Linked DNA regions of Homo sapiens. The protein of the gene in region 1 interacts with the protein of each later gene in a pairwise test. Each region holds a gene or a part of one and is shown in the gene's direction. Other genes may lie near its edges. The genes, in order: TRAF3IP1, CFAP58, IMMT, MEIS3, ERV3-1, EXOC1 and ANKRD36B.

Evidence for each region.
Region 2: the proteins of TRAF3IP1 (region 1) and CFAP58 interact in a two-hybrid assay, tested with the Homo sapiens proteins (one large-scale study listed by IntAct).
Region 3: the proteins of TRAF3IP1 (region 1) and IMMT interact in a two-hybrid assay, tested with the Homo sapiens proteins (2 studies listed by BioGRID and IntAct).
Region 4: the proteins of TRAF3IP1 (region 1) and MEIS3 interact in a two-hybrid assay, tested with the Homo sapiens proteins (one large-scale study listed by IntAct).
Region 5: the proteins of TRAF3IP1 (region 1) and ERV3-1 interact in a two-hybrid assay, tested with the Homo sapiens proteins (one large-scale study listed by IntAct).
Region 6: the proteins of TRAF3IP1 (region 1) and EXOC1 interact in a two-hybrid assay, tested with the Homo sapiens proteins (2 studies listed by BioGRID and IntAct).
Region 7: the proteins of TRAF3IP1 (region 1) and ANKRD36B interact in a two-hybrid assay, tested with the Homo sapiens proteins (one large-scale study listed by IntAct).

The regions. Positions count from the first base shown.
Region 1 is NC_000002.12:238,348,018-238,351,517, forward strand, and holds part of TRAF3IP1 (TRAF3-interacting protein 1), read left to right. Parts: intron 1-746; coding exon 747-831; intron 832-1,307; coding exon 1,308-1,391; intron 1,392-3,500.
Region 2 is NC_000010.11:104,352,465-104,356,632, forward strand, and holds the start of CFAP58 (cilia- and flagella-associated protein 58), read left to right. Parts: upstream 1-1,368; 5' UTR 1,369-1,433; coding exon 1,434-1,442; intron 1,443-4,168. UniProt on the Homo sapiens protein: Has an essential role in the assembly and organization of the sperm flagellar axoneme. Required for the elongation of the primary cilium and sperm flagellar midpiece via modulation of the Notch signaling pathway.
Region 3 is NC_000002.12:86,164,463-86,167,962, reverse strand, and holds part of IMMT (MICOS complex subunit MIC60), read left to right. Parts: intron 1-1,318; coding exon 1,319-1,455; intron 1,456-3,500. UniProt on the Homo sapiens protein: Component of the MICOS complex, a large protein complex of the mitochondrial inner membrane that plays crucial roles in the maintenance of crista junctions, inner membrane architecture, and formation of contact sites to the outer membrane.
Region 4 is NC_000019.10:47,402,624-47,406,075, reverse strand, and holds the end of MEIS3 (homeobox protein Meis3), read left to right. Parts: exon of another isoform or gene 1-648; intron 649-2,522; coding exon of another isoform or gene 2,523-2,662; 3' UTR 2,663-2,952; downstream 2,953-3,452. UniProt on the Homo sapiens protein: Transcriptional regulator which directly modulates PDPK1 expression, thus promoting survival of pancreatic beta-cells. Also regulates expression of NDFIP1, BNIP3, and CCNG1.
Region 5 is NC_000007.14:64,996,688-65,000,187, reverse strand, and holds part of ERV3-1 (endogenous retrovirus group 3 member 1 Env polyprotein precursor), read left to right. Parts: intron 1-745; exon of another isoform or gene 746-1,067; intron 1,068-3,500.
Region 6 is NC_000004.12:55,870,648-55,874,147, forward strand, and holds part of EXOC1 (exocyst complex component 1), read left to right. Parts: intron 1-30; coding exon 31-258; intron 259-453; coding exon 454-586; intron 587-1,201; coding exon 1,202-1,311; intron 1,312-2,107; coding exon of another isoform or gene 2,108-2,161; intron 2,162-3,500.
Region 7 is NC_000002.12:97,583,378-97,586,877, reverse strand, and holds part of ANKRD36B (ankyrin repeat domain-containing protein 36B), read left to right. Parts: intron 1-1,479; coding exon 1,480-1,594; intron 1,595-1,760; coding exon 1,761-1,934; coding exon of another isoform or gene 1,935-1,940; exon of another isoform or gene 1,941-2,367; intron 2,368-3,500.

The DNA.
Region 1 (3,500 bases):
TTCTAATATTCAAATTCTGACTATTTTCTGAAGTGTTAATTCCTTTTACTTTAAATAGTGGAGTAAACTTGTCTTAATAGTTTAGGCCTTGTTATTTACTGATTAATTCTTTTTATCAAAATGAAGAAAACTTTGTTCAGATTATAAACATAATATGGTATACCAATGTAGAAAAATTTAAAAATGCAAAAAAAAAAGAACAAAAATTAAAAGCACTGGTAATTCTACTGCTTATAACTTAAATGAATATTCTTCTAGAACCCTGTATATATATATATGCATATGTATATAATTGTTAGATATATTACTGTACTGGATTGTTTCACACAAAAGGGAGCTGACATGTGACTGTACCATAATTTACTTAGTTACTGATTGATTGTCAGTATTACCAGTGACGATGGGTGAACATCTTGACATGTGTCCATTTCTCCTCTTGGGTTGTATTTCCTTTAAGTGCTCAGTTGATCAGCCTGCCTTTTGAATTTTATTTCTGAAGTAGTTGAACCAGTTTGTATTCCCTGGGTTTGAGTGTGCCCATTTTCCCAAATCTTCACTGAGTTTAGATATCAGACATCGATTTTCTCTTCATCAACATGATTGATGGAAAAATTGCTCATTTGTATTTGCAATTACAAATGTATTTGATTGCAAATAACTGCAAATACAGATGCAAATAGTATTTTCAAATAGTTATCTATGTGTGTTTTCCTTTGTGAATTGCTAATTGATTGTCATTTGTTTAGAAGGAGATGCTGGACCTGCTGGCCAAGATAAGTCTGAGGTGCCAGAGACTCCAGAAATTCCTAATGAGCTTTCATCCAACATCAGGTCTGTGTGCTTTGAATCCCTTTCCCTCAGCAGAGTGATCACACCTAGGACACTGCTGTGCTTCTCTTTCTGGCTGCTGCTATTTATTTAGTGCTTGAGCTAACTTATGAGGAATTACTTATACAAAGAATACAAGAAGTATATCAGTTTTCTGTACTGGAGTTATATCACTATATAGTGATATAATATTTTGGAGATTTAGGGGAATTCAAAATTATAGCTGAATTATGTGATGTTTTGATTAGTGACAGTTGTTGGTATTTTGAAATTACTGAAAATACAAGTGGAAAGATGGACACTTTCTGATTGGTCGGGTTACTGGGACGTTCCTCCTCTTCTGCAGAGTAGCGTGTCCTAACCAGCACATTGATTATGGCTTGGAGATGAGAGTTAACATTCACCTGGGCTTTCTTTTCCAGTTTGAAATGTATAAGCCTTTCATACTCCTTTTTTGGTTTTCCAATATTTGGGTTTAGAAGAATTCCTCGGCCTGGGAGTGCAAGACCAGCCCCTCCCCGGGTCAAACGGCAAGACAGCATGGAGGCGCTACAAATGGATAGGTAAGGCTGGCTCAGCAGGGCAGTTCCAGCCACACAGTGTGTTCTCCAGTGGGCATGGTGCCTCCGCTAAGAGAAGGGGGAGGGAAGCAGCACATGGTGCTGGAAACATGCTATTGAGGAACAAAAAGTGAGGGTAGGCCCTCGCCTCACACCATAGGCCAACAGACATGTCAGATGGATGAAAGAGAAAAACCATGCATACATGTAAAATACATCTTCACATCTATGGGAAAATGTTGGACTGCATTTCTCTGACCCCTAGATTGAAGACTTTCTAAGCGTGAAAACAATAGGGGAATTAGGAAAAAATAGGGGAAAAAAATTAGGGGCTTAATTGCAGAAAAATTAAAAATAGAAGGTGATCAAAATGTTATAAGCAGGCTGGGCCTGGTGGTTCACGCCTGTAATCCCAACATTTTGGGAGGCCGAGGCGGGCGGATGGCTTGAGGTCAGGAGTTTGAGACCAGCCTGGCCAATGTGGTGAAACCCCCGTCTCTACTAAAAATACAAAAGTTAGCTGGGCGTGGTGGCGTGTGCCTGTAGTCCCAGCTACTCAGGAGGCTGAGGCAGAAGAATCACTTGAACCTGGGAGGTGGAGGTTATAATGAGCTGAGATTGCACTGCTGTACTCCAGCCTGGGCGACAGAGTGAGACTATCTCAAAAAAAAAAATAAAGTCATAAGCAATATAAAGACAAACAACAGATAGGATGGATCAGAGTGGGTTTCAGATCAAATAAGAGGCAGGGATTGGAGGCAGGAGTAGATGTGTTTTTCTAGGAGTTTTGCCACAAAGAGAAGGGAAGGAATAAGACTAGAAAGTGGGAAAGGTGGTGTCAAGGGGAGTTATTATTTTTCTAATGACGGGAATGATCCAGTGGAAAGGGGAAATTGATGACGTAGGCGACGTGGGACAGGGGTTTGGTGGAGCAGAGTCCCCGTGTGGGTGTGGGAACGGGCGCGGAGGTGGAGTCGGCACATGGTGTGATGCAGATTCTTAAGGTGATTTTCTGGTACTTATTTTTCTCATGAGCCGTAAGAGGGTCTGGGGGAAGAGGAGTGTCAGAGGAGAGAGGGGCTGGGTGAAGTCGCTGTGCACGAGAGTGGGCTAGTGAAGAGACTGGAGCAGAGGTTTTCCTCTAGGGGTGATCCTACTTTGGGGACACTGGGCCATGATCTGGAGACATTTTCTGGTGTTCTGATGAAGGGGAGGGGTTAGGGCAGGGCAGTTGCTGAACCTCCTACAATGCACAGGACAGTCTCCACCACAAAGGAGGATGGGCTGCCTGCCCATAGTGCCTGGGCGGAGGCCGTGGCTGACAGCTGACTTCAGGGCAGCATCTGGTGGACTTGGGCGTAAAGAGACAGAAGATGGTGTGGCGGGGCCTGTTCTGCAGCTGCAGTTGGCTACACCTACAGGCACTGGGGGGCACAGGCTGTATTAAACAGGGCTCGGCTGTGCCAAGCAAGTGCACCGAGAGAGAAGGGAAGGAGTAGGAGTATGTGGAAGCGCCACGGTCATGACCAATGTGGGATTTATGCCAGTGAGTGAGGGAGGAGCCCTCGGGGTGAAGGTCAGGAGGAGGCATTAGGATTGAGAGGCTGAAGGTGCCGGATGGATAGAAGGATTGTTGGAGTCAGGTCCTAGGGCGGTGAGCTGGGAATATAGATAGTGGTGGTAAAGGAGTGGGGCGCTTGGATTTGAGGTTGGAGCTTGCTGTTAGTGGTAGTGACAGGGGTGCCCCTGGGAGTGGGCGTCGAGTGTGGGAGGTGGGATCATCCCAGCAGGGTTCAGGGACCCAAGGCCAGGATTTTGGAAGGATCATTTCTCAATACTTGAAATCACAAGTAAGACAGGAGCACCGTTGGTGAGAGTGGCGGGTCCAGGAGGACTGGGTGGGACCATGGGTTGGCAGCTGATGGCAGCAATGATGGGGTCGAGGGTGACAAGATTTAAAGTTGGCAGTTTTTAGGGAGAGTGATCTGGAAGCCGAAGCAAGCATAAGGAAATTACTGACCTTCCCTCTGGGCCCGTGACAAGAGGCCGGTGGGAGGAGCAGCAGCTGCAGCTGAGGGCTGTGGGGAAGCTGTGTCCTGGAGAGCAAGGCGG
Region 2 (4,168 bases), on another chromosome or scaffold:
TGTGAGAATAAAAAGTGCACACCTTTCTCCAGTAGGGCACATGGCACGGGAAAGAGAGTAGAGACAGTTTTTCAGCCTCCATTGCCCCATGGCTGGATGTGTTTGTGCAGGACGCAGCTGCATAAGCAAATGTCCCTGTGCATCCCTATAACTTTAACAATCTTACTCCTTGGCATATATTTCAGAGGAATTTGCACAGAGGTCCTTAAGGGACCACGGACAAAGACGATCATGGCTGTATTACTTGATGTATTGGAGAATTAGAGGCGGCCTTGTTACCTAACACCTGGGGAATGGAAGTGAAGTGTGGTAGATGCCCCTTATGAAACGCTGTGCAGTACTCAGAAGCAATGAACTATATGCTTGCCAATCGCAACGAGGACAGATCCTTAAAAAGAATGTTGAGTGAAAAAAGTAGAAAATAAGATAATCTCCAAAGTCCAGTAGCATTATTTAAACATTTTTAAAAAATACACTGATAAAAATTTTGTACATTTCCCAAAAATACATATGGAAGCACAGCAGCATGAATGCCTATGGGGTTGAGGATAGGGGTTGGGAGTAGGGATGGGGATAAAGGGGGAAAATAAAACCAGAGAGGAGTCTTACACATTTCATGAACCAAGGAGTATAATTATTTCAACTATTTGTACCTGAAGTCCAGAAAGAGTGGAGGCAGAAGGGGGAGAAGAGGGCGAAGAAACGTTTTTGGGAGAGGGGTCCCAGAAGAGAGATTTTCGCGATGTGGCGCTACATACGTTTTTCCAGGATGCCTTAAGCTCTGCACCCTATTTTTCTCATCACTAATATTAGATTAAACCCTTTGAAGACAGCGTCTGTGGTTTCTCTACTTCAGCTTTCCCTCCGTGTCTTGCACACAGTAGCTGTTTTACAAGGGTTGAACTGACTGAAGTGAGATTATTCCTCGTTGTCTCGGAAGGCAGAGTGTAGCCGCCAGTCCTTCCCTCATCCGGAACCTTCTGGTCCACATTTCCTTCCAAGCGTTAGTCCTCGGCTCTCCATGCTTGGCTCCCTAGTGTCACACACCGTCCTTTCTGGGTGGCCTCTTCCAATTCGCCCTCTTCTTTCTCCTGGGTGTCTCCATCTGCCCACACCGTGGGACTCCTCCCAGCCTCTCAGGGGCACCGCCCCCTCACTTCCTTGGCTCCGCCCCATTGGGATATATTTGCATATTTCTCTGAGGAACCCTGCCCAGGTGCCAGCCGCAGAAGCTCCTCCCCTTTCGAATTCCCGCTAGCGCCCCTAGAGGGCGTGTCCGTTGCCAGGCGACGGGCCGACGCGCCGAGCGCGGGTTTCCGCTCGGGGCGGGCGATAGAGACAGCGCGTCGCGCCTTTAGCTTCTTTCCCAGACTCCGGCCCAGCTCCTGCGATCTCCACAGCAGCCTCTGAGGCCGCCCCCAGAGAGCATCAGGATGGCTGAGGTCAGGAGTCAGCGCCCCTCTGTCGCCTTTCCCTTGACCCCTCCCCATTGTCCCTCTCCTACTGACGATTGTCACAAACGGTGATTCCAATATTTCCCCCCATCAACATCTTATTCCCCTGCACCCTCACTCACTCCCGCGCCTTTCTCCGTTGGCTCTGGCCTCTTTACCTCCTGTTTCTCCTTCATTTGTGTGGACACCCCACTATCCCCACTGTGGCATCGGCGCTATGCTAAGTGCGGTAGAAAATTAATGAATTCTGAAATCCACACGTGACATGCACCCAGCCCTAGATTTTTAGTCATGGAGTGATACCATAAGAGAGGCTCACACAGAAATATTGGAGATGTCTTATCTCACAGGGGAAACCGGGAAGAAAGCTTCACAGATGCCTGCTGTCATCCCAATCAATGGCCCTTGTCCACCTGTCACACCCTGATTTCCTAACATGTGATCACCTGCTGTCACACAGCTTCATTAAGGCTCTTCTGCCCATCACCTCTGCCCCGTGTGTTCATTGACTCCTGTGTTAACATCTCGTATCACCCCACCACTCCCCCATATTACAGTACACCCCATTTTCAGCCTCTCCAATGAGGGGTTATTTCTGCAACCCTTCAGTGACTCCCTGCCTGCCCCTTAGCCCCCTCACGTATAACCTCAAGAGCCTCGGGTCCCTGTCATTACTTGCCATTCACAGTCCCCATCCACTATGGCCCTACCCAAATCCTTCATGGCCCCATCAGAGCCCTTCCCCCATCACCCATCCCACGGTCTGTTCCAGCCAGGACCAGCTACATGATTTGCAAGGCCTGATGCAAAGTGAAAACACAAAGTCTCTTCAAAAATTACAAATAATTTTAAGACAGAACAGCAGAGCATTCAACCAAGAATGGGGCCTTTCTGAGCAAGGGGCCCTGTGCAACTGACCAGTTTTCACTCCCATGAAGCCAGCCCAAGCCCCATCATCTTTCAGCACCATCGTGCTCCACCCCCTCCCCACCCCATTCTAGTTACTCTCTTGCTTCCTCTGCACCATTCACATCCCCTCATCATTGCTTTTCCTCCATCTCCAGTCTAGCTTTATAAATTCCGTCTTCCCGTGGTCAACACCTCCTTCCTTTCCTTATCATACGATCTCTTTCATATCATCCATCTTCCTCACGCCTGGGCTCCATCACTCACATCTCTCTCTGACATCCATGCTGCTGTGGCCACTTCACTTCTCCCCATTACCCATAGTCATTTGTATCTCTTTCTTCCCATTTCCTTTCTTGTTCCTTCTAGTTCTTTATTGTCCCATTATTGCTTTTGAGTGTTTTCTCCTCTTTTCTCCCACCAGTCATCTTTGTTTATTTCATTCTTCATTCCCCATAGGGAAGCCCCAGCCTCCCAGAGGCACCAGCCCCTCATTTCCTTGGCTCTGCCCTATTCAGGATATATTTGCATATTTCTGTGAGGAACCCTGCCCAGGTGCCGGCCTCAGAAGCTGCTCCACTATTATGGATTAGTTATTTCCATTTCCCTCTTTCTGTTACTCCTCTCGTTTCTTCCTTTCTTCTACTTTTCTTCTTACTTGACCTCAGCCAACTTTCTCGATTCTGCTTTCACAATTCTCTATTTCCCCTCTGGCCTCATCTTATATTGCAGTTCTCTTTTCCTTTTCCCTTTTCCTTCTCCCCACTAATTGATATTCCCAGAACTTAGGACAGGACAGTGCCTGGCACATAGCAAACAATCAGTGAATAGGTGAAGAATAAAGAAATGCCACAGTTCCTTTCTGATCAGTTCACGTTGATTTCATCCTTCTGAAACAGATACCATTATATGTTATAACAGTGGAAATATCAACTGTTTATTGGCCAAAGCTAAGAGATTATTTTTCCTTTGCTTTTAATGACAATAGGAACAAATCTCTTTTGTTCCTAAAAGTTTCTTTAAAACTTTTCCTTCTTTGGTATTTTTCCATTCCTGTGCTAAGTGCCAGGTAAACAGGTAAAACTTGGACTGCTAACAAATCATTAGGCTGTTGATCAAGTGTTGACGTTAATACCATTTACAGGGATGGAACCAAGAACAGTGCAGTGACAAATTTTTGTGTGTGCTTATGTTTAGCATCAACAAGGGAGAAGAACAGAACAGCAGCAACACCGTATTTCCTTAATATGGTTTTTCCTCCTTTGTGGAATTACTACATTGTGGTCTTTGCAATAATCTGCTTTTAGTCAGGAAGAAAAACCTATGTGAATTTAAAATTAGTACTAAAGTTGTTATACAAAATGCTATAGATATGCTTGTGACTCTACATTTATTTTAATTTACAAAGACTGTTTTGCTTGCATGTCATCGTTAGAGATTTAATTAATAGTACAAGTGTTTTCGAAAACCAAGAATACGTAGACTTTTTCCATATTGGGCAAGACGGGCTTGTCAAAACAGAAGGTAAACTAGACTCCTTAAAATCTTCAGGGTGAATTGAAATTTTACTTTATTATTGGGACTACAGATTGTTTCAGTTGGTTTCTTTTAGCAAGAGAGTGTTGATGCCAAGGCCCTTTGTAGAGTAGAATATTAAAACATAATGTTGCAAACGTAAGTAAGGCCTTGCAAGCCTTATGAGTCCTTTGCTCAAAAGTCTTGAGTGGTTCCCTGTGGCCTGCAGAATAATGCAATCCGTACTCCTTTGAATGTAATTCAGTGTCTTCACTGTGTGTCCCTCACTCCCT
Region 3 (3,500 bases), about 150 Mb from region 1:
TGTTTAAAATGAAGAAAGCTGATGGATTTGTTGAGTTTATAGCCACAATATGTAAAAGGGGCTATAGTGTCCTAAACCTTGTTTCTCCCATTTGAAATACATTACCCTTCTTTAAATAATTTTGAAAAAAAAAAACACTTTTTATTTTGAAAAAGTTTAGATATACAGAAAAGAAAAAGTAGGCTGGGCACGGTGGCTCACGCCTGTAATCCCAGCACTTTGAGAGGCTGAGGTGGATGGATCACGAGGTCAGGAGATCGAGACCATCCTGGCTAACACGGTGAAACCCTGTCTGCTAAAAATACAAAATATTAGCTGAGCGTGGTGGCAGGCACCTGTAGTCCCAGCTACTCAGGAGGCTGAGGCAGGAGAATCGCCTGAACCCAGGAGGCGGAGGTTGCAGTGAACTGAGACGGTGCCACTGCACTCTAGCCTGGGCGATAGAGTGGGACTCCGTCTCCAAAAAAAAAAAAAAAAACAAAAAACAAAAAACCGGGCACGGTGGCTCACGCCTGTAATCCCAGCACTTTGGGAGTCCAGGGTGGGCGGATCATGGGGTCAGTAGATGGAGACTATCCTGGCTAACATGGTGAAACCCCGTCTCTACTAAGAAATACAAAAAAATTAGCTGGGCGTGGTGGTATGCACCTGTAGTCCCAGCTACTCGGGAGGCTGAGGTAGGAGAATGGCGTGAACCCGGGAGGCGGAGCTTGCAGTGAGCCGAGATCGCGCCACTGCACTCCAGCCTGGGCGACAGAGCGAGACTCTGTCTCAAAAAAAAAAAAAAAAAGAAGTGTAATAAAGCTTCATAGATTTATCATCCAGACTAAATTATCAGTATTTTACCATGTTTTCTTTTTTTTTTTTGAGAGAGTCTCGCTCTGTCGCCCAGGCTAGAGTGCAGTGGCATGATCTCGGCTCACTGCAAGCTCCACCTCCCAGGTTCAAGCGATTCTCCTGCCTCAGCCTCCCAGGTAGCTGGAACTACAGGCACCCGCCACCATGCCTGGCTAATTTTTGTATTTTTAGTAGAGACGGGGTTTCACCACATTGGTCAGGTTGGTCTCAAACTCCTGACCTTGTGATACGCCCGCCTCGGCCTCCCAAAGTGCTGGGATTACAGGCATGAGCCACTGCGCCCGGCCTTTACCATACTTTTAAGTGAAACTTTGATTCCCTAAATTTGAGTCTCATGTATTTTGTTCCTTTTTAAATTTTTTGGGAAATGCAATGGAAGACTAGATAGGAGAACAGCAAAAGTTTAAAGTCATTTATGGGGGTAGGATTTGTTTTTTAACTGTTCTTTTTTTTTTTTAAGCTCTAGCCAAGAGCTTAGAAGATGCTCTGAGGCAAACTGCAAGTGTCACTCTGCAGGCTATTGCAGCTCAGAATGCTGCGGTCCAGGCTGTCAATGCACACTCCAACATATTGAAAGCCGCCATGGACAATTCTGAGGTGAGCCCAATGAATGATTAGAAGTGTTCTGGCTGTCATGACTTGGAGGACAAAAAGAAAAATCGAGGGTGGAGAGAAGTGTAATATTTAACAGACTGCTTTCTTCCGTATGATATCGGCTTTCTCTCACTAGGGGAAGATAGTCTGGAATAATTAATCTTTTTTTGTTATTGTTTTGAGACGGAGTCTTGCTCTGTCGCCCGGGCTGGAGTCCAGTGGTGCGATCTCGGCTCATTGCAACCTCCACCTCCCAGGTTCAAGCGATTCTCCTGCCTCAGCCTCCCGAGTAGCTGGGATTACAGGCTCCCGCCACCATACCCGGCTAATTTTTGTACTTTTAGTAGAGACAGGGTTTGCCATTTTGGCCAGGCTGGACTGGAACTCTTGACCTCAAGTGATTTGCCTGCCTCGGCCTCCCAAAATGTTGGGATTACAGGCGTGAGCCACTGTGCTTGGCCTTAGAGTAATTATGTTTAAAAAACAAACTGAAAAAAGCCTTTAAGTTTTTTAGAATGAATTTTATACATTGTGCTTTACTATATCTTACAACACCGATGCAGCGCAAGAATTAGTTCAGATTTGCTTTCATATTTTAATAGCACTTAAATATTTTTGTTGTTTGCTTTAAAATTGCTATTTCCATAGGTAAACTTTTTAAGATACTTCTCAAACTTCACATGCAGTTTTAAGAAATAATACAGAGAGCTCTCATGTTCCCTGAAACACCTGCTATTTTAAATGTTTATGATTATTTATGCGAAACACTTCAAAGAATGAAGTAATAACATTGATTTTTCAAAATTTAATACTGGGACTTAATACATTATTTTATAATTACATTAAGTTATTCAGTATGTATAAATGTATCTCTATTCCAAGTCATTTAAGGAGTAAATTAAAGTAAAATGCATAAATTATTAATCTTAAGGATCAGGATCATACATGGTCAGTAAAGTTACTTTGCCATCATAATTGTAGTTTTAAAAAAAATTTTACACACACTTTACATTGTTTCAGTCGTATGTACTTATATTACAAAAGAGTTTAATTAGACCTCTGATGTTAGTAGCAAGAAACTACAACCTTTGAAATTTTAAGGAAAATTCCATTTTATTCAAAGTCCAAGAAAAATACTTAAATATCAGAGTTCAGTCAGCAAAGTGGAAACCACCCAGGAAATTTAATTTGCTGGTTACCGATATGGGAAGGCTAGAAGTTGCGTGATGTAAGGGTGTTGGGTTCAAACCCAAGTAGACCAGTATCCCTCAGAAGGACACGGATTGGAAGCTTTAAATGCCATGTTACTACTTGGGTATAAGGGTACACAAGGTGGTATTTCATCTTCCTAACGCACATAATGTGTAGCACATGGTGATTAGACAGTGTAAAATCTATTGCAGTCAAGATTTTACAATCTAATGGTAGCAGTTAACAGATGAGAGTATTAGCTAATGTACAAAATAATTGGAAAAATGTATGAACACATTTTGGAATGTTAAGAATGAATTCCAGCTTTTGTTTTTTCTAGTACAAGAAGCTACAGGTGCACATGTAATTTCTAATATATACTGAATAACTTTCACAAAGCAGTGTTTGTGAAGAGTTGGATTTGGTAATACTAGGATTTAGTTTGGTTGTAGGGGAATCTGTGTCTGTTACAGGGTAGGTTTTCCTTGGACTTCTGTAAGCAGGAGTACCTTCAACAAGGGTGATAAATTTTGGCCCCCAGATATGTCATTGACATTTACATGCTTTGTAATTCTATTTGGGTCAGTTCATGTGGCCCAACTCAGCATCCATTCCTTTTTTTTTTTTTTTGAGACAGAGTCTTGCTCTGTCACCAGGCTGTAGTGCAGTGGCGTGATCTCTGCTCACTGCAACCTCTGCCTCCCAGGTTCAAGCAATTCTCCTGCCTTAGCCTCTCAAGTAGCTGAAATTACAGGTGCCCACCACCACACCTGGCTAATTTTTGTATTTTTCGTACAGAGAGGGTTTCACTATGTTGGCCAGGCTGGTCTCGAACTCATGACCTCAAGTGATCTACC
Region 4 (3,452 bases), on another chromosome or scaffold:
TACCTCCACACTGACCAACCACCCACACATCTACCCATTTATCTGTGCATTCACCCACCTCCCTACCCAGGCTTCCACCCACCTACCCATCAACTCACCCATCCATCCACCCACACATCCCATTATCCATATATCCACCCACCCACCACCCACTATCCATCCATCCATCCATACCTACATACACCCATTCATCTATGATACATCTCCAAACATAAACTGAGCCCTTGGCTGGGCACGGTAGCTCACGCCTGTAATCCCAGCACTTTAGGAGGCTGAGGCAGGTGGATCACCTGAGGTCAGAAGTTCGAGACCAGCCTGGCCAACATGGTAAAACCCTGTCTCTACTAAAAATACAAAAATTAGCCAGGTGTGGTGGCATGTACCCATAGTCCCAGCTACTCTGGAGGCTGAGGCAGGAGAATCACTTGAACCCAGGAGGCGGAGGTTACAGTGAGCCAAGATCAACCTGGGCAATAAAGTGAGACTCCATCTAAAAAAAAAAAAAAAAAAAAATTGAGCCCTCACTCCATCCTGACATGCCTCAGGTAGGGTCTGGATCTTGAGAAGATTCTGGTCTTGTGGGGAAGTTGGCAACCCCAGTGACAATCCAGTGTAACAGTTCAAACAATAAAACGTAGTTTCCCCATAGGAGGGAGTCATCAGCTATCTCTGGGGTATCAGGGAAGATTTCCTAGAGGAAGTGGCCTCTGGATGGGGCACTGAAGGATGAATAGGAGTCCACTGGGCAGAGTAGGGAGTAATGTGGAAGGGGGGCATTATTTGACTTTCCCAGGCCTTGAGTCTTCTGTGGCCTGGTATGATGGCGGCACTTTAGAGCATCTTCTCATTTAGTCCTTACAACGATCCCGAAAGGGGAGACTATTAACAATTTTAATTTCATAGATAAGAAGACTGAGGTTCAGAGAGAAGAGGTCACTTGCACAGGTCTACCCTGCTCACAAAAGCAGAGGGAACAGCATGTGCAAAGGCCCAGGGTAGGGAGGCAGCCTAGAGTTTCCAAAGCCCAGATCAGAGTTTGACTCTCTCTGGATTAAACCATTTGTGGCTCCCTAGTGCCATCTGGACAAAGTCCTAACTCCTTAGTTTAGCATCCATCTGTCCATCCATCCCCTGAGCCCCTCTGTGCCCAGCCCTGTGCTGGGTAATGTTGGGGACACAACAGTGACCATGACAGCCTCAGCCCTGCCCTCATGGGGCACAAAGTCTAGTGAAGGGGACAGACCCATCCCCAGATGGTGATGCCCCAGAACGGGCAGGGCTGGGATGGTGAAGCCAAGGAACTGGAGGAGCTCACAGGGGGCGGGTGTTGGACCTGGGATGGGGGGAGGTGTTTAGAGAGGGCTTCCTGGAGGAGGGGGCATCTGACCCAGACTAGAGGATTCAAGGAGGGCTGCCTGGAGGAGAGGACTTTGGAGGTGAGACCAGCAGAATGGGAGGAGTGAAGCAGGAGAGGAGCATCTGCAGAGGGAATAGCACGTGCCAAGGCCAGGAGAGCTTGGAAATCTCGTGGCTGTGAGACAGCCCCAGCCCCCTACACACAAGGAGGAAGTTCTCTTTGGACTGGGTTGAGGCAGGCGGCCGGACAGGTGGCTAATGAATTCAGGGCCAGCAGAAAAGCCCTGGGGATGAGAGTGGAGGCCTGCACAGGGCTTATGCATGGAGGCGGGTGCTGGAGGCCGAGCCTGGGAGAGAGATGGGCAGGCGTATCCAGGCCAGGTAGGGCAGTGGGCGACTCAGCTCTTTCATGGCCAAGTGTGGGTAGGGATGGTCTGGGGTGAGTGTCAGGGGACCTTTGGGGTCAGTAGTGATGGAGGGGTCTTCTCATCCCACTGCCTGGCTGCCCAGTGGGCTCTTTTCTCTGCTCCTTTCTGTCTCCTTTTCTGTCTCTCCACTCCTGATCATGGCTCACTGTAGCCTCGACCTCCCCAGGTTAAGCGATCCTCTGGCCTCAGCCTCCCAAGTGGCTGAGACTACAGGCGTGCGCCACCATACCTGGCTAATTTTTATTTTTATTTTTGTAGAGACGGGTCTCGCTTTGTTCCCCAGGCTGGTCTCGAACTCCTGGGCTCAAGCGATCCCCCTGCCTCTGCCTCCCAAAGTGTTGGGGTTACAGGCATGAGTCACCGCGCCCAGCCTCCTGTCTCTCTTTCTCTCTCTCCATTTCGTCTATTTCTTCATGACTTCTTCTCTCTCTTCCCATGTCGTTCTCTCTGACTCCCTCCAGGTCTGTCTCTGTCCTACTCTGCCTGTCTCTCTCCTTGTTCTCTGTCTCTGTCTGTAGGTCTCTCCCTCCCTCACCTCCACTCTGATTCTCTGTCTCCCTCTTTCTCGTCACTGCGTCTCTTCTCTCTGTGACCCTCCCACATCCCTGTGCCATTCCCCGCCAGCCACTCTCTCTGTGTCCCCCTCACATTGGGGCTGATGAGGCCTGCACAGATGGGCTGGGGTGGGGCCAGGCCCCCTGCCCGCTCCTGACTTGGCCTCTCCTCCCCTCTCCACAGACCCAGCCTCCGGCTGTGACCCCCAGCCTCACACCTGCCTCTGGTTCCCGCCTGGTCCTCCAGCTTCAGGACCCCACCTCCAAAGGCCCCTCTGCTCAATGCCTACCTCCCTAGGGCCCTGCTGGGACATGGGGGCCTGAGTGCCCATCCAAGGGCTCTCAAGGACACCGGCAAGGCCTCCAGGCCCTGAGCCCCACTTCTGCCTTCACCTCTGCCTGGGACCCGAGCTGGGCTCCTGGGCCTTGGTCCCCAGAAGATGGCGGCTAGGGCCTCGCCGCCAGGACAGAGAAGGGACGGGGTGGCTGGGCAGTCAGGGAAGGAGGGTCGCCCGGATCCGACATTTTGGAGAGATTCCTTCACTCTCCTGTCCCCCCTACCTCCCTTCTCTAATTTCTTCTTTTTTTTAATGATAAAGTCTTAAAAACACGGAGCCACCAACTGGAGTTCTTGTGTCTATCCCAAGATTTCAAATTCTTACCAATTTGAAGCTCGTAAATCACGAATAAGAATACTGATTGGCCGGCTGCAAGCACGATGGCTCACGCCTATAATCCCAACCCTTTGGGAGGCCAAGGCGAGTGGATCACTTAAGGCCAGGAGTTCAAGACCAGCCTGGCAACATAGTGAGACCCCATCTCTACGAAGCAAGCAAACGAATTGCTTGGGCATGGTGGTGCACGCCTGCAGTTTCAGCTACTTGGGAGCCTCCCAGAGTGCTGGGATTACAAACGAGCCACCAGGCCTGGCCAAGACTCCACCTCTTAACTAGAGGGAGCTGCAGAATTCCTGCAAGAGATGTGTGTGCAGGGGAGAATGAAGACTCAGGGCCACGCCTGCGTCACTTCACCAGCTGTGGCTGTCCAATCACGTCCTCTGTCCCATGGGAAATGAGCAGGTTAGGCAGGCACACCCTCACTTCCAAGGCTTCCG
Region 5 (3,500 bases), on another chromosome or scaffold:
TACCATACTTTCTTTATCCAGTCTGCCATTGATAGGTGTTTATGGTGATTCCATGTCTTTTCTATTGTGAGTAGTGCTGCAGTGAACATGCATGTCTTTGTATCTTTATGATAGAATAATTTATATTTTTTGGGGTATAAACCCAATTATGAGGTGCCTGGGTCAAATGGTAATTCTGTTTTTAGTTCTGTCATTGCCACAATTCTTTTCACAATGGTTGAATTAAGTTATACTCCTACAGGCAGTGTATATGAGGCAGGAAATATAAAAGGAAAAACAAGTAAAGGGAAAACAAGTCCTTCCCTGATCAGTCTGACTCACTCCAAAGTCCTGCTGGAGCTATGATAACATTATCTGCAAGGCCAGGCAGGGACCCCAAAAGAATGGGCTCCAGGAGCAGAGATGAGAAAAACAAGTTCTCCTTATCAGTTTCCGCCTTGAAATTCTTTCCCCATACCATTATTCTTTGTTCTGCTCTCACAACTATTTTTGTAACTATTTCTGCAAGTTTGCAAAGATTTCATAAGTTCCTGTTTTTCTTTCTGTAGCACGGCAAGGTCACAAGACATGCTTAAGTAAGATAGGGTCATGTTGCAAATCCTGTTGTAAAACCTGTCACGGTATGATTAACTGTCTTTGTTCTGCTTCTGTAAGACTGCTTTCCTGTCTCACAGGTTTCATGCCAAAAACCTGACCCGCCCCTGTTGGTTGCATGTATAAAAGTCAAGCCCTGTCATTGTTCAGGGCTCAGCCTTTGGATGTTCATCGGCTGGGCTGGTGGTCACCTAAATAAAATCCTCCTGTTCCACCAAGTGGTCTCTCCAGCCTCCTGATTCCCACAACATTTTGGCGAGCCAGCCAGGAGGGGAGACTACAGGTTTACTGTCTCCTTTGGCTGTGGGACTGGAGCCCCGGGCTGGGGGAGACCCGTGACCCAAGGCACCATTGGGAGACCTTCAACCCGGAGGGGAGATTGGCTCTCCCATGACCCGGCGCCCCTCCCTGACAGTGCATTGGAACCTAAGGGGCTACAGGACGATTCCAGGACTTCACGCTACAGGACTGCAGTAAGGTTTGGGCCCAAGGCAGGACCCGTCCCATAAGGATGGAAGGGGAGCCTGATCACCTCCTGGGGTGTACCTAGTAATCCGACTCAGGACATGAGAGGGGCTCGCAAAGTTGGAAGAAACCTACACCCCAACTGACCCAGGACGTGAGAGTGGCTCACTAAGTTGGTTAAGAAAGGAAACTGGAAGTGGGGAGGTGTGTGAATAAATGTGAAAGAGATGGTTCCAAAAGGAACCAACATGCTGAGTGACGTGTGTGGAGCCACAGGTCTCTTAGCATAGACTGTACCATCTGAGTGAAGTGTGGAACCGACCGAGACTAGTGGCAAACATCCTTTGGGGCTACGGCATATGGCTTAGGGAGGTGCCCCACAACTTATAGATTGTGGTGGTCCGGGTTCAGGACTCATATGAACCCTCCATTAAATCTAAGAAGTGTCTGAAATACTCCTGCAAGGGACACGGTCTAATCAGTCTGAAATGAAAGGAAGAGTGAGTGGGTTCTGCCATAACTGGGAGGAAATGGGAGGGAAGTCATCAAAACCCATCCCATTAGAATGTATGTTAAGGAACTTTAAGTAAGATTATACAGGGGATTATGAGATCAAGTTGACCCCCCAGAGGTTGAGAACTCTCTGTGAAATAGAATGGCCCTCTTTCAATGTTGGATGGCTGGCCGAAGGAACTATAGATAGGGAAAAAATTGGCCGTGTATTTAAGGTGGTGACTGGGGTCGGAGGACAGCCAGGGCATCCAGACCAATTTCCTTATATTGACTCATGGCTAAATATAGTTCAAACTCAACCTGCATGGCTGCAGCCTTGCCTGGCTTCTTATTGCAAAACGCTCATAGCTCGAGCCAAGCCTAAAGTAAAAGAAAAATCAGCTTCACTGTCAGCTACAGAGACAAAAGGAAAGCCACAAGAAAAACCAGTTTTGCAGGAACCAGCAGAGGAGATAGAAACCCCTCCTCCCTATGTGCCAATCTATCCCCCTTTACCAAGGACGGCCCCTGAGCAGCCAGACTCAGATGGTGACACACTCCAGGCTACACCTCAAAGGGGGAAATCTGAGCCCCCACCTCAGGAGGTCAAGAAGGAAAGTCAGGATGATCAAGCAGGCCGCCTTCGACCTGGCCACACCAGAGTGTGGCAGATGCCCCTCCGTGAAACACGGGGACCTATCTATTATGATGAACAGGGGCAGGTTCAAGGGGGGGCAACCGACTTTTATTTACCAGCCTTTTTCAACCACTGATCTCCTAAACTGGAAACACCATACTCCCTACTCCCTCCTACACAGAGAAGCCCCAAGCCCTCACAGATCTGATGCAGTCCATTTTTCAGACACAAAATCCAACGTGGCCAGATTGCAAACAGCTCCTCCTGACACTGTTTAACACCGAGGAATGCCGAAGGGTGACCCAGGCAGCCCTCCACTGGCTGGAACACAATGCACCAGAAGGCACACTTAATGTCCAGGCATATATGCTCAGGGCCAATTCCCAGAAGCCAGCCTACACTGGGACCCAAATGATGCAGCCCAATTACAGTACCTACAGAGGTACTGGGAGGCACTCCTGCAAGGGCTAAAGGAAGGTGGGAAAAAGGCAGTCAACACGGGGAAAATCTTGGAAGTGCTGCAGGAGACTAATTAAAGTCCTGGTCAGTTTTATGAGAGACTCTGTAAAGCATTCTAGCTTTACACCCCGTTTGACACTGAGGCTACTGAGAACCAGTGCATGGTGAACGCAGAGTTTGTAGGACAGGCCCAGGGAGACATCAGGCGAAAGCTGCAAAAGCTAGAGTGTTTCACGGGCATGAATGCCACTCAGCTTTTAGAAGTGGCCACCAAGGTGTATGTTAACCGTAACCAGGAGACAAAGAGAGGCTGATCAGACTTAAGAAAAAGGCCGATCTGCTAGTGGCAGTCCTCACAGGAAGGGAAACTAGCATCGCGAGTGGGTGTGGACATAGCCATGGACATGGAGGGGTTCAGGCCAGGCAGAGACCTGAAAGTCAACCAAGACTATGTAGGAATCAATGTGCGCAATGCAAAAAGAGGGGACACTGGAAAGGTGAATGTCCAGAGGGCAATGAAGAAAATGACAGAGACTATAAAACTGGAAAACTGCCAGCCAAGGGCTATTGTGTCCCAAGGGAGTCAGATACCTACTTGATCAGGCTGGCAGGAACTGGAGAATATGAAGATTAGGCCAGACTGGGCTCCTTCTCTTTAGCCCCCCAGGAGCCCATGGTCACATTAGAAGTAGGAGGCCAGCTAATGAACTTTATGGTAGACACTGGGGCTGAACACTTGGTAGTGACCCAGCCCATAGGGCCATCATCCAAAGATCATACAACTATTGTTGGGGCTACAGGGGTCCCAGAGAAGAGGCCATTTTGTCAGCCAAGGAGGTGTGTCTTTGGAGGA
Region 6 (3,500 bases), on another chromosome or scaffold:
GTTTGTTTGTTTTGGTCTTTAACTTTGTAGGCTAACATCCAGTCAATCATGGCATCTGAAAAACAAGTCAACATCCTGATGAAATTGCTAGATGAGGCTCTAAAGGAGGTAGATCAGATTGAATTGAAACTGAGCAGTTATGAGGAAATGCTCCAAAGTGTAAAAGAACAAATGGATCAGATCTCTGAAAGCAACCACCTAATTCATCTTAGTAACACTAATAATGTAAAACTCCTATCTGAGATAGAGTTCCTTGTGGTAAGTATGATCATAAATTACCAACAAAAAAAAACTAGTGATGATATATAAAACCCATTTGTAAACATTTTTTAATTTCCTTGTGAGAACAGGATTTAAAATAATTCCAAAGACCTAATGATAGGACTGAATAGCATCTTGCCTGTAAATTTCCCAAAATTACACATGCAAATGGTGTGTTTGCATATATTCTAGAACCACATGGACTTGGCCAAAGGTCATATAAAGGCCCTTCAGGAAGGAGATCTTGCTTCTTCCAGAGGCATTGAGGCCTGCACCAATGCTGCTGATGCCCTTCTGCAGTGCATGAATGTAGCTCTTCGACCAGGTATGTTCATTAGAAATGACAAAAATGTGACCAAGAATGTGAGACTAAGCCTGTAACTTGTTATAAAGGTTTTGACAAGAAATACATGAGACAAGTGGTTTAAGGGTTACATTATTAGCTATTCAAGTTTCACTGATTTCCCAACTTATTTCTATTGATACTAGGAACTTTTTTACTTCAGTTCCTCCTTCTAATTGTCCTCAATGACTATAGTCAACACCATGATCTTTATTTAGTACTATCCACAGAACCCAGCAGAAAGTAGGTGCTTTGGTTAGACGAGAGCAATTATTTCAAAACTTGAGTGTCCGTCAGAATCCCTAGAGGTCTTGTTAAAAACATAGATTGCCTGGCCCCAGTCCCAGATTCAGCAGATCTGGGCTGAGATTTTAGAATCCACATTTCTAACAGTTCCCAGGCGATGGTGAGGCAAGACCACACTTTGAGAACTACTGTGAAATCCCATTTTTCTCCTGCTTAACTTTTATCATGTAAATGAATACACCCATAAAACTTTTGGGTTCTTCAAAACGTTAGATACGTTTAATGTTCCATTAAACATCAAGGAAATCTTTTTACCCATTAAACTGGTCACAAAATGTCGTTCTGTGTCAGGCCATGACTTGCTTCTGGCAGTCAAACAGCAACAGCAGCGATTCAGTGATTTGCGAGAGCTTTTTGCCCGGAGACTGGCCAGTCACCTCAACAATGTTTTTGTTCAACAGGTAATTTTATTTTATTATTAAAACGAGCATGTTCCTATAGCTTATTTATGTATTAACCTTACATTTCCACAAAAATGTTAATATGTTTAATTGGGGTTGCAGTCAATTCCTTCACATATTTGATTTTAAGATTTTGAAATAGGAGCCTCTTTGCTCATAGATGTACTTTGGGCCTCAGCTGCCTCTTTTGGTAGACAGTCTAGTTCCTTTCAGCTGATGCTCTCTGATTCTAGAAATCAAATAACTATGCATATGAATTGCATATACTACTTAGATATTTTTATTTATAAAGTAAGTCCAAACTTGTTAGATATTTACTATTGGACCTGTTTTATTTTTCAGTATTTTGAGGTGAGACTCAGGACTTGATTCAGTGTTTTAAATGTTTTGTAAGTTCTATGTACTTAGTACATAGTATAATTGTTAAGAAAATGACTAGCTCAACTGCAAATTTCAGTTGATCTAATCTTCATATAAATGCTTTACCTATATTTTTATATGGAAAAGGATGTTATAATTAAGAGTGTGGTAATAATATTGTTATTAATAATATTAAGAGTACCTTTGAGGGATTTGAATAAAAGCCATTTTAATATCTAATACAATAAATTAGGTTTCTTATTTTTTCATCTCTTTTAAAAGTCCCTTTTATTTTATTAGAGTTATAGAATGAAAAAAAATTGGGGGAATATCTCGTTCATCAAGAAATACTGCCTGAAAACAATGGATTTTTACTTTATTTTCACTTTGCAATATTCTAAAACAATTGTATTTACTATATTTTATTTCCAATTAGTTTACTCAGGCCCTCCTTCAACTCTATAACAGGTCCTACTTTCTTTCGGTTCCTGTGAGTACATCAAATTTGGCTCAAGCTTCTCTGATTCTGTTTTTTTTTTTCTATAAAGTTTGCTAAACTTAACAGCAGCCGAATCTTTACAGATTATAACTTACTGATTTAAGCTACCTGTTAACCACATTCGTAGCAGTTTTTAAATGTCCCATAGTAGAGACTATTTTGGCCAAAAAAGCATTTAATCTCATTCTGCTTGCTTTTCTTTCTGTCATTTTTTCACTCCATTTAGTAATAAATAGTAATATTACTCCTTCATTTAGTAATAGTAGTAATATTAATCCTTCATTTATTTAGTATTGCCAGGTGATTGAGGTACATACCAGACATTAACTTGGGATAAATGAGAGACCAATCCTGTCCTCTAGTAGTTCACAGTCTAGGGAAGCGAGACAAACAAATAATATACTCAAGAGGGATAAATGTTATGACAGCGAGACTGTGGGAGTGTAAAGGAAGACCACCTAACTAAAAGCACGGTAGGGGGGAATCAGAGAGATTCCCTTAACATTCCACTTGACTGAAAAGTGTCGAGAAAAAAGTAAGCTTAAATGTCACATAGGAAATACTAATTCATGTTTTTGTTAGGTACTTACTTCAATAACATCTATTTCTATACAATTCCTTAGTTTTTAAAAATGACACTGTTGACAATTATGTTATCCACATTTGTTAGATAGTATTGAAAATACCAGCCAGTAAACAATAGTCTTTTCTGTACCCTTAACTGTTTGTTGTAACATGCAGTTATTTATGATTTTGCTTCTTGCCTTGTAAACTAATGGCCTCGTTTAAAATGAATGCTTCCCATTTCTGAAAAGCTGATATGTGTTATTACATGTGAGTGATGCATGTTAAAAATCAGAACGCTGCGACAACCTGGGGTGTGCCAAAAACGGTGGAAGAAGATATCCCACACATAAGAAAGATTTTCTTAGTGTTGCATTCAGTGCATCAGGTCACCTAGCAAAATTGTTGAGAAACATGGGTATTTCTATTCCTGGTAGGGAGACAAGCTGGGAAAATTGATTAAAATAATATGGTACACCTCTTTGGCAATCACAGAATTTTCATTGTATGCTTATTATGTACTCACTGTCTACCATATATAAGAATAAGCAATAGTTCCTACCCTCAAGATGCTTGTAAGAAGGAATTAAAACTAATGTACTTACTCTTTGTAAGGAGTTAAGACTAATGTACATTAGCAATGTATGTAATAAATTGCTAATTGTAGAACTGTGGACTGTAAGTGCTAAAAAGGTTTAATCAAAAGTGAGTTTATTGAGAATTTAAGGAGTGAGATATGGAAGGAATTGCAGATAAGGTAGGACTT
Region 7 (3,500 bases), about 140 Mb from region 1:
TTGTTTATTGGTATCTTCTGTGAACTTTTAGCCTCTTCAGAGGCAGAGGGAATATTTTTATTTGTGCTTGATTATTTTATTATGCATAGATTTTAGTATATACATAAGTTTTTATTATAGTTTTATTACATATAAGGAAACAATTTTAAATTAATTATTTTAGTTTATCAGTGTCCTCATGAAAATGAAAATGAGCAAATATAAGTGATTATCACTATTCCAAAAGCACTGCTTTAATTTATAGTTTTTTTCACAATAAACTTCCCAACTGTATGTATGCATTCTTTCAATCCAGTTATTCATCAAGCATAACCTGAATACCTATTATGTAGCAGACACATTCCACCATCTCTCAGGACTCTTCCACCCTTAACAACTTCATGTTTACCTGCCCAGCCTGAGCAAGCTGAGATTTAAAATGGAAGCATTAGGACTGAATCCCAGTTGGATCTTTTATTCCTTTTTTTTTTTTTAAACAAAAGCAATTCTGAAGTTAGAAAATAGTGAAAGATAACCTTTAACTGCCATTTCAAAAACTTATGACAGTCTCAAATACTACTATTAATCATTGCAAATACCTAATTTACATAACATTCTGTAAGTATTGAAAAAAATGAGCCATACCTATTCATTTGAATCCTGAGTTTTCTTTGGATTATTTTTTTTTGAAAGTTGAAGTAAGAATTACTTTGTTTTAAAAATTTGTTTTTTTATTTTTGCCTTCTTTTTCCACAGTACTTCATTTAGGTGCCAATTATATGAATAGAACTGCCTGTTCTATGAACTGTATCCCACTTAATGTAAGGCATCACGGATTGGGTGATGCCACATTACTTTATATATCGATAAGATAATGTTTAAAATGTTGCCAGTTATAAATGTAATAAATAATGAATTGTAAACAGTTTTCCAATGTCAGGAGATGTTAATATATAAGAGAATAGTAGCTTATATAAGAGAATAGTGAGAAAATGAGCATCTGAGAATGACTGAAATACAATGATACATCTAATCTTTAATAGATACCTCAATGTAGATATGATTGTATCATTTTACTTAATTAAAATGTCTTTGTCTTTGTAAGTAGTGATATCTAAAAATTATTGAGCTGTTATTTGTGTTAGAAAGTGTTCTAAATGCTGTGCATAGATTCTTATGTAAGCATCACAGCAGTGTTCTGTGGGCTAGCTACTATTCTCTTACATATTTTATTGATAAGGAAATTGAAGCAAAGAAAGGCTAAATAACAGCTAAGTGACAGAGCTTACAGTAAATTTTAAGCCCCAATTAAACTGAATCCAAAAGCCAAGCCTTTTCTATTAAATAGCCTGCTCTTTCATTAATGTGGTGAGTAATAAGCGCTAACAAATGTTGTACTTTCTTCACAAGAAAATTACATATTTGTTTTGAAGACAGAGAAATAACATGCTAATTAATGCTTACAGTTACATGTTTTAAAAAGTCCTGTCACTCTCACAGGACTGCCCTACATTTGGCCTGTGCCACTGGCCAACCGGAAATGGTACATCTCCTGGTGTCCAGAAGATGTGAGCTTAACCTCTGCGACCGTGAAGACAGGACACCTCTGATCAAGGTACATAGTAGCTGACTCTTTGAGCATGAGATGGATTTGGTTGAAGTACATAGGATAAAATGAATTTATCTCATTGGAATACCACCATATAACTAGTAGGAAATCCTACGGAGTGTTTATTTTGATTTTTTCAGTATTTGCATGTTTCTCGGTCTAATACTGACAGGCTGTACAACTGAGGCAGGAGGCTTGTGCAACTCTTCTGCTGCAAAATGGCGCCGATCCAAATATTACGGATGTCTTTGGAAGGACTGCTCTGCACTACGCTGTGTATAATGAAGATACATCCATGATAGAAAAACTTCTTTCACATGGTACAAATATTGAAGAATGCAGCAAGGTATAGGTCAACCAATGTTATTTTCAAACTATCTGAAATGCATTTATTTTAACATTGACACATGTAAGGGTCAATTTTTCATATTTGGAAGCTCAAACATTCCTTGAATGAAAATATTTTGAAATGCCTTAACTGTCTAAGATTTTACTTTAAATATTGGAACTTTTAAAGAAGCATTATAGGGAACAGCCTTTTTTCATGCACTTATGGTAAATAACTATAAAAACAAATGAATTACAATAAATTTATAATTCATGACAACTGAATTTGGGAAAGGTAATAGTTAAGTGTTTTTCCACTAAATTACTTTTTTTCTAATCAGTGTGAAGTGACACAGGAAAGTAAAATTGTCCCTTATAAATAGGCTTTATTTTAAATGTCAAAGAAAATTAAAGAATTTCACAATAAATGTACATGTTGTTGCTGTTGACAAGTGTTGTATGTGAAGGTGATTTCATTTGAAAGTGATTCCTCTGTGGAAAGGCTTAAGAGGGAAAAATGAAGAAAAGGAGAGCAATCAGAAATGCACAAGCTAATTTGGAAATTAGGTAATGAGGGAAAATACTGTGGAGAGGGTTTTTGTGTGTTTTGTTGTTTGTTTTCAATTTATATGTTTAGACAAAGATCGCTTCAGTTTTGGGGATGATTATTCTTACTTTGGGAAAGAGTTTGTGAGTTGTGAAATTGCCCAGGGATCAATTTTGGTAAGACTCTGAGGAAACCAGGTTGGCAGTGAATAGTGGTGATGAAGCGGCACACAGTTCAGCAGAGAGAAGAACACATAATTAATGGACATTATTCAATTCTGGCAGAAACAGCCACTCAGATAAGCATCTAAACTCTACTCTCAAGTCCAGAATGTCTTGATGGGCAGGTGGGAGATACGGAGCTTATAAATAGTAAAATCAAGTTGGATTTTGAGCTTACTAGTCTCTTCCCTACCCCTACCCAGGAAAAGTAAATGAAGTCTTCAGTGAATGGCTCTATCTTTTGCTCTTTCCTCTTTTCGGCCAAATCCCAAACGATAAAGGGAATTTGCCACGTGGGTGAGAAATGAGACTGAAGTGATTATCAACTGTGCTGGTTCGCAGTTAGAATTGTGCATGGCAGTAACCTGGGGAAATTAAAAGCAAATCTCTAAGTCTAGGATATCCCCTGAAGATTTTAATATAGTAAATCTAATATTTACTATTAAATATTACTGGGCATGTATGTTTTAAAATATTTCCTTGAAGCTGGGCATGGTGGTGCCTCTAGCCAGAGCAACAGATTAAGACACTGCCTCTAACAGCAACAACACAACAACAACAACAACAATAAAACATTTCTTGGGACACTGATACGCTGCTGGTTAAGAACCACTGAATAGATAAGTGTAATATAAATTCCCATATCTCAAACACACAAAAAATCTCTAGAAGAGCTGGAGATAGGTGCTGCTTCCTTTAAATTTCTCCTTTCCAATAATATTGGCCTGACTTTTACCTGTCTCTACCTCTGTGGTTGGGAAGTGGAAAGGACTATTATTTGCAGTATCTATCAGCATAAGAATAACACCTTTTCTTT